2 linked regions of the Homo sapiens genome follow. The gene in region 2 interacts genetically with the main gene of each other region. Each region holds a gene or a part of one and is shown on either strand. Other genes may lie near its edges.

The links. A genetic interaction does not mean that the proteins touch.
Region 1: changes in DDX23 (region 2) and MUS81 impair growth when combined (synthetic growth defect), as found in Homo sapiens cells (one large-scale study listed by BioGRID).

The regions. Positions count from the first base shown.
Region 1 is NC_000011.10:65,863,433-65,866,939, forward strand, and holds the end of MUS81 (structure-specific endonuclease subunit MUS81), read left to right. Parts: coding exon 1-70; intron 71-145; coding exon of another isoform or gene 146-167; coding exon 168-289; intron 290-368; coding exon of another isoform or gene 369-371; coding exon 372-469; intron 470-1,064; coding exon 1,065-1,181; intron 1,182-1,287; coding exon 1,288-1,383; intron 1,384-1,584; coding exon 1,585-1,713; exon of another isoform or gene 1,714-1,714; intron 1,715-1,787; coding exon 1,788-1,891; intron 1,892-2,378; coding exon 2,379-2,462; intron 2,463-2,553; coding exon 2,554-2,620; 3' UTR 2,621-3,007; downstream 3,008-3,507. Other genes in the region: EFEMP2 (EGF-containing fibulin-like extracellular matrix protein 2 precursor), read right to left, coding at 3,486-3,507. UniProt on the Homo sapiens protein: Catalytic subunit of two functionally distinct, structure-specific, heterodimeric DNA endonucleases MUS81-EME1 and MUS81-EME2 that are involved in the maintenance of genome stability.
Region 2 is NC_000012.12:48,842,028-48,845,800, reverse strand, and holds part of DDX23 (probable ATP-dependent RNA helicase DDX23), read left to right. Parts: intron 1-18; coding exon 19-227; intron 228-1,750; coding exon 1,751-1,861; intron 1,862-3,773. UniProt on the Homo sapiens protein: Involved in pre-mRNA splicing and its phosphorylated form (by SRPK2) is required for spliceosomal B complex formation.

The sequences.
Region 1 (3,507 bases), on a different chromosome or scaffold from region 2:
AGCAGCCACTGGAGCTGAGGCCTGGAGAGTACAGGGTGCTGTTGTGTGTGGACATTGGCGAGACCCGGGGGTGAGTGAGGTGGGGAGAAACGAGGGAGATGATCAGAGGAGGCTGGGGGGTAGGCACTGCCCTGCTCTGATCTAGGCTTCCCTCCTTGCCACTCCAGGGGCGGGCACAGGCCGGAGCTGCTCCGAGAGCTACAGCGGCTGCACGTGACCCACACGGTGCGCAAGCTGCACGTTGGAGATTTTGTGTGGGTGGCCCAGGAGACCAATCCTAGAGACCCAGGTGAAGGGCCGTGGACAGGCTGGCACCAGGGGCAGGGCCTGGTGGGTAGGGGATCGCAAGCTAACGGCTGGCTTGTCAGCAGCAAACCCTGGGGAGTTGGTACTGGATCACATTGTGGAGCGCAAGCGACTGGATGACCTTTGCAGCAGCATCATCGACGGCCGCTTCCGGGAGCAGAAGGTAATTTTGCTGGCTTTGCCAGGCTTCCCTGCCTGCTCCGAAGCCCCGTTTTCAGCCCAGAGCAATCCAGGGGCACTTCTGGCAGCCTCCTTGAGGCAGAGCCCTTTGGAATCCAGCCACACCCACCCTGTGGCTGCTCCAGGATCAGACCCCCACAGGCCCATCCAGGCGCACAGTAGGAAGCCAGGTACCTGCATTCTTGGGCTGAGGTCAGGAGCATTTTAAAGACCTCTTGGGTACCCAGCCCCTGCAGTCTTGGATAAACAAGGCATAAACCTCCAGGAGTGGAAATACAGAGGCTGTACCTTGGTACTTGCTGCTGGGTGGACCCCTAGTCACAGAGGCCATGTGCCGGCCCAGGGGAGGCTTGAAGGATGGGCAGTGTTGAGAGATGGAGAAAAGGCTTTCTAGACAAGAGTGTCAGCATGAGCAAAGCTGCGGAGGCCCCTGTGAGGCAGGTGGAGAGGCTAGGGAGGATGCAGAGGCTAACTGGTGGGAACAGGGTCCCGGCACCATTTTGAGTGTGACATCATGGATGCCCAGGCATGTGGTCATCCAGCCTGACCCTCCCTGTCCACTCTGTACACTTCCCTAGTTCCGGCTGAAGCGCTGTGGTCTGGAGCGCCGGGTATACCTGGTGGAAGAGCATGGTTCCGTCCACAACCTCAGCCTTCCTGAGAGCACACTGCTGCAGGCTGTCACCAACACTCAGGTGAGCTGGGAGGGCAGGGCCAGGCAGGCAGGCAGGGGCCCCTGTGGTCCATGGTTCATGGTCTAGGCCAGGAGCCACCTTCCCTCTCTTGGGTCCTCTTCCCCAGGTCATTGATGGCTTTTTTGTGAAGCGCACAGCAGACATTAAGGAGTCAGCCGCCTACCTGGCCCTCTTGACGCGGGGCCTGCAGAGACTCTACCAGGTGAGCAGAGGCCCCTTTCCCAGTGTCGGGACAGAGCCCACAAGGAATTCACCTTGCCTGGGCCCTGTGCATCCCCAAAAGAAGCAAGGTGGGTGAGATCCCCATTTCTCAGGCTGGCCCCCCAAGGCTGAGGACTGGGCAGGGGCTGGCTGGAGTTGTTCCTTCGAGCTCCAGCCTGGCCTCAGTCCCTTCTTCCCTCAGGGCCACACCCTACGCAGCCGCCCCTGGGGAACCCCTGGGAACCCTGAATCAGGGGCCATGACCTCTCCAAACCCTCTCTGCTCACTCCTCACCTTCAGTGACTTCAACGCAGGAGCCATCAAGAATAAGGTACTGTCTCTGCCTAGCTTCTCAGACATGGCCTGGCCCAGACCCCCACTGATCCAGCCCTTTCCCGAACCCAGGCCCAGTCGGTGCGAGAAGTGTTTGCCCGGCAGCTGATGCAGGTGCGCGGAGTGAGTGGGGAGAAGGCAGCAGCCCTGGTGGATCGATACAGCACCCCTGCCAGGTAGGCCCTAAAGGGCCCTTAGGTGTCCTCAGCCCCTGCCCTCCATGCATGGAATTCACCTTAATCCATGCTTCGTGGAGGGGGCCTGGCCTTGTGTGGGCTCTGCAGACCAGAGATAGACAGATCCCAGGGTGCTCGTGGAGGTCAAGTGGGGAGGAAGCCAGCAGGCCCACATAGTGTCCCAGGTAGTGGAGGCCACAGGAGGGAGGGAGACGTCCCACCTGGTGGAGAAGAGGCTTCCTGGAGAAGGGGTTGGGCCATTAAGGGGAGTGAGGGTGAAGGTTTGGAGCCTTTGCTGGTTTTGCCCCAGAGTTCCCACAGGGAGGGAGGACAGCCCGGCTGGCATGGGGCCTTGAGTGCCAAGCTCAGGAAGTGGGGCAGTGTCCCAACTCTTCCATCCCATGCTGACCCCTCTGCCTGGCCCCTCATGGTGCTGGCCCAGAGTGGGCCACTGTCAGCCTCAGAAACTCAAACCCCTGCCCCCCAGCCTCCTGGCCGCCTATGATGCCTGTGCCACCCCCAAGGAACAAGAGACACTGCTGAGCACCATTAAGTGTGGGCGTCTACAGAGGTGAGGGCAAGAGACGGAACCTGGAGGGAGTGGCAGGGACTGGGGCTGCCCTAGGCCCAGGGCGTGACCCTCGCTGCCTCTCTTCCTGCAGGAATCTGGGGCCTGCTCTGAGCAGGACCTTATCCCAGCTCTACTGCAGCTACGGCCCCTTGACCTGAGCTTATGCCGTGAAACAGCCCCCAGCCCCCGTCTGTCCCCCAACCCAGGCTAGCCAGCCTTTTAACAACATCTTTTGGGGTACAATTAGAATCTAAGTGTTTGCAGCCATATGTGTCATGTAGAAGATGCCTAGCCCTGGGGACCTTGTGAAATACGCAGGAACCAGGGATACCATCTGGTCCAGTGGTTTTTAAACAAAGCTGCTTAGCACCTGGAATTCCCTGGTCAGGGAGATGGAGTCAGTGGGGCATTGCAGCTTGGAATCTATTTTATGTCACCAGTTGGTCCTCATCAAATAAAATTTCCTTAGGAGTGCAGAGGGCTCATTGGGAAAATAAAAATAATAAAAATAAATAAAACTTCCTAAAAGAAAAGATTGAAAACCACTAACAGTCCAGTTGCCTCGTTTTATAGAAAAACAGGCCCAGGGAACTACTAGGGCTTATCCAAATGTACAGTTTGAGGCAGAGTTAGGAATGGAACCCAGGGCCTCCTGGCGCTGTCCAGAGTGGAGTTTCTTAGGACCCCTGCAAGCCAGCCAAGTCCAAATCTCTGGGCCGGGGCCTGGAGTCCGCCCTCCTCGTTACCTCCTCTCCTCTCGGGGTGACTGAAGCTCGTGGTGCAGAGCTCCCAGCTCCTGTCAATGGGGGCCCCTGGGCCTGAACATATAGAGACCCCCATTTAGGTGAACTTGGCCTGCCCCCCCAAGTGCCACCCTGCCCCAGCCTGAGGCTTCCTGCAGTGTGACCCGCCCACCTCAGCCACCAGGACTTTCTTTCTCCCTTTATTGCCTTTCTCATTCTGCCCCTCACAACAGGCTCCTCAGCTAGGGTAGCTGCAGGGAGGGTGGCTCCCTCCTGCTCCTCAGAAGGTGTAGGCCCCTACA
Region 2 (3,773 bases):
TCTTCCTACTCATTACAGATGGCAGGAGAGCTGGCTGACAAAAAGGACCGTGATGCATCACCTTCCAAGGAGGAAAGGAAGCGATCACGGACTCCTGACAGAGAGCGGGATAGAGACCGGGACCGGAAGTCTTCCCCATCTAAAGATAGAAAGCGGCATCGTTCAAGGGATAGACGTCGAGGAGGCAGCCGTTCTCGCTCTCGTTCCCGTTCCAAATCTGCAGAAAGGTAAAGTAACTTTGTATGTTATTACATGGGAAGGGAGAGTACGTTTCAGATTTCTTCCTTCTTGGTTCTTCTGATGCCTCCAGTATTAGGCATCTACTTTTTATTTTTATTTTTTGAGACAGAGTCTCGCTCTGTTTGTTACCCAGACTGGAGTGCAGTGGTGCGATCTCAGCTCACTGCAAGCTCCGCCTCGCAGGTTCACGCCATTCTCCTGCCTCTGCCTCCTGAGTGCGTAGCTGGGACTACAGGCGCCCGACACCATGCCCGGCTAATGTTTTTGTATTTTTAGTAGAGATGAGGTTTCACCGTGTTAGCCAGGATGGTCTCGATCTCCTGACGTGATCTGCCTGCTTCAGCCTCCCCAAGTGCTGAGATTATAGGCGTGAGCCACCGCGCCTGGCCTTTTTTTTTTTTTTTTTAAAAGATGGAGTTTCACTCTTGTTTCCCAGGCTGGAGTGCAATGGCACGATCTCGGCTCACTGCAACCTCTGCCTCCCAGGTTCAAGCAATTCTCCTGCCTCAGCCTCCCGAATAGCTGGGATTACAGGCATGTGCCACCACACCTGGCTAATTTTGTACTTTTAGTAGAGACGGGGTTTCTCCACGTTGGTCAGGCTGATCTCAATCTTCCGACCTCAGGTGATCCACCCACCTCAGCTTCCCAAAGTGCTGGGATTACGGGCGTGAGCCACCACGCCCGGCTAGGCATCTACTTTTTGTACATTAATCTACTCCTAGCCCAGTTGGACCTGCAGGTGTTTTCAGTTTTCCTCAGTGACCCAACTCTTAAAAGTTGAGAGGGGGCCGGGCGCGGTTGGTTCACGCCTGTAATCCCAGCACTTTGGGAGGCCGAGGCAGGTGGATCACGAGGTCAGGAGATCGAGACCATCCTGGCTAACACAGTGATACCTGATCTCTACTAAAAATAAAAAAAAAAAAAGTTGAGAGGGAACTAGTAAGGTGAAGGTCCGGGTTATCAAGGAAGGTTCATCTGTGGCCGGGCGCGGTGGCTCATACCTATAATCCCAGCACTTTGGGAGGCCGAGGTAGGTGGATTACTTGAGGTGAGGAGTTTGAGAGCAGCCTGGCCAACATGGCAAAACCCCGTCTCTACTAAAAATACAAAAATTAGCCAGGCATGGTGGTGCACATCTGTAATCCCAGCTACTCGGGAGGCTGAGGCATGACAATTCCTTGAACTCGGGAGGCAGAGGCTGCAGTGAGCCGAGATCACACCACTGCACTCCAGCCTGGGCGTGAGAGTGAGACTCCATCTCAAAAAAATAAAAAAGGAAGGTTCATCTGTTCACATAGTCCGTGACCTGTCATTGCCGTTAATATTTAACAGTACATCTCTGATCTATAAAAGCTTCTTAGAATTCCCTCGTTATTTCCGTGAGAGATACATTCTCTAATTTGTAAAACATTACTTTGGGACGAGAGTATAGGAACTTTCTCAGGGCTGCAGTGAAGCAAGATACTTTGGAAATACCAAGTGAACTCTTAAATTTGCGGTCTTCCAGAGAACGACGGCACAAAGAACGAGAACGAGATAAGGAGCGGGATCGGAATAAGAAGGACCGAGATCGAGACAAGGATGGGCACAGACGGGACAAGGACCGTAAACGATCCAGGTACATGAAGGAATGAGAGGGGGCTTTAGGGGAATGCTCCCATTTCTTCTCTGCACCTGAGTTTGCTCAGCTTCTTATGAAAGTAGATTTCTCGCCAGGCGTGGTGGCTCACGCCTGTAATCCCAGCACTTTGGGAGGCTGAGGCTGGTGGATCACGAAGTCAGGAGATCGAGACCATCCTGGCTAACATGGTGAAACCCCGTCTCTACTAAATATACAAAAAATTAGCCGGGCGTGGTGGCGGGTGCCTGTAGTCCCAGCTACTCAGGAGGCTGAGGTAGGAGAATGGCGTGAACCCGGGAGGCGGAGCCTGCAGTGAGTCGAGATCACGCCACTGCACTCCAGCCTGGGCGACAGAGCAAGACTCTGTCTCAAAAAAAAAAAAAAAAAAAGAAAGAAAGAAAGTAGATTTCTCTTAACAGATTCTGTTGGTAGTTATTACAGAGCTCTCTTTCTTATTTATTTTTATTTATTTTTTTGAGGCAGGGTCTCTTTTGCCCAGGCTGGAGTGCAGTGGTGTGATCACAACTTACTGCAGCCTTGACTCCCCCAGGCTTAGGTGATCCACCCACCTCAGCCTCCTGAGTAGCTGGACTACAGGCATCTGCCACCAGATTTTGTTTTTTTTGGGTTTTTTTTTTTTTAATTGATCATTCTTGGGTGTTTCTTGCAGAGGGGGATTTGGCAGGGTCACAGGACAATAGTGGAGGGAAGGTCAGCAGATAAACAAGTGAACAAAGGTCTCTGGTTTTCCTAGGCAGAGGACCCTGCGGCCTTCCGCAGTGTTTGTGTCCCTGGGTACTTGAGATTAGGGAGTGGTGATGACTCTTAACGAGCATGCTGCCTTCAAGCATCTGTTTAACAAAGCACATCTTGCACCACCCTTAATCCATTCAACCCTGAGTGGACACAGCACATGTTTCAGAGAGCACAGGGTTGGGGGTAAGGTCACAGATCAACAGGATCCCAAGGCAGAAGAATTTTTCTTAGTACAGAACAAAATGAAAAGTCTCCCATGTCTACCTCTTTCTACACAGACACGGCAACCATCCGATTTCTCAATCTTTTCCCCACCTTTCCCGCCTTTCTATTCCACAAAACCGCCACTGTCATCATGGTCCGTTCTCAATGAGCTGTTGAGTACACCTCCCAGACGGGGTGGTGGGCGGGCAGAGGGGCTCCTCACTTCCCAGTAGGGGCGGCCGGGCAGAGGCGCCCCTCACCTCCTGGACGGGGCGGCTGGCCGGGCGGGGGGCTGACCCCCCCACCTCCCTCCCGGACGGGGCGGCTGGCCGGGCAGAGGGGCTCCTCACTTCCCAGTAGGGGCGGCCGGGCAGAGGCGCCCCTCACCTCCTGGACGGGGCGGCTGGCCGGGCGGGGGGCTGACCCCCCCACCTCCCTCCCGGACGGGGCGGCTGGCCGGGCGGGGGGCTGACCCCCCCACCTTCCTCCCGGACGGGGTGGCTGGCCGGGCGGGGGGCTGACCCCCCTACCTCCCTCCCGGATGGGGCGGCTGGCCGGGCGGGGGGCTGACCTCCCCCACCTCCTTCCCGGACGGGGCGGCTGACTGGGCAGAGAGGCTCCTCACTTCCCAGTAGGGGCGGCCGGGCAGAGGCGCCCCTCACCTCCCGGACAGGGCGGCTGGCCGGGCCGGGGGCTGACCCCCCCACCTCCCTCCCGGATGGGCGGCTGGCCGGGTGGGGGGATGACCCCCCCACCTCCCTCCTGGACGGGGCGGCTGGCCGGGTGGGGAGCTAACCCCCCCCACCTCCCTCCCGGACGGGGTGGCTGCCGGGCGGAGACGCTCCTCACTTCCCAGACGGGGTGGCTGCCAGGCGGAGGGGCTCCTCACTTCTCAGACGATGTGGCTGCCGGGCGGAGGGGCTCCTCACTTCTCAGACGGGGCGGTTGT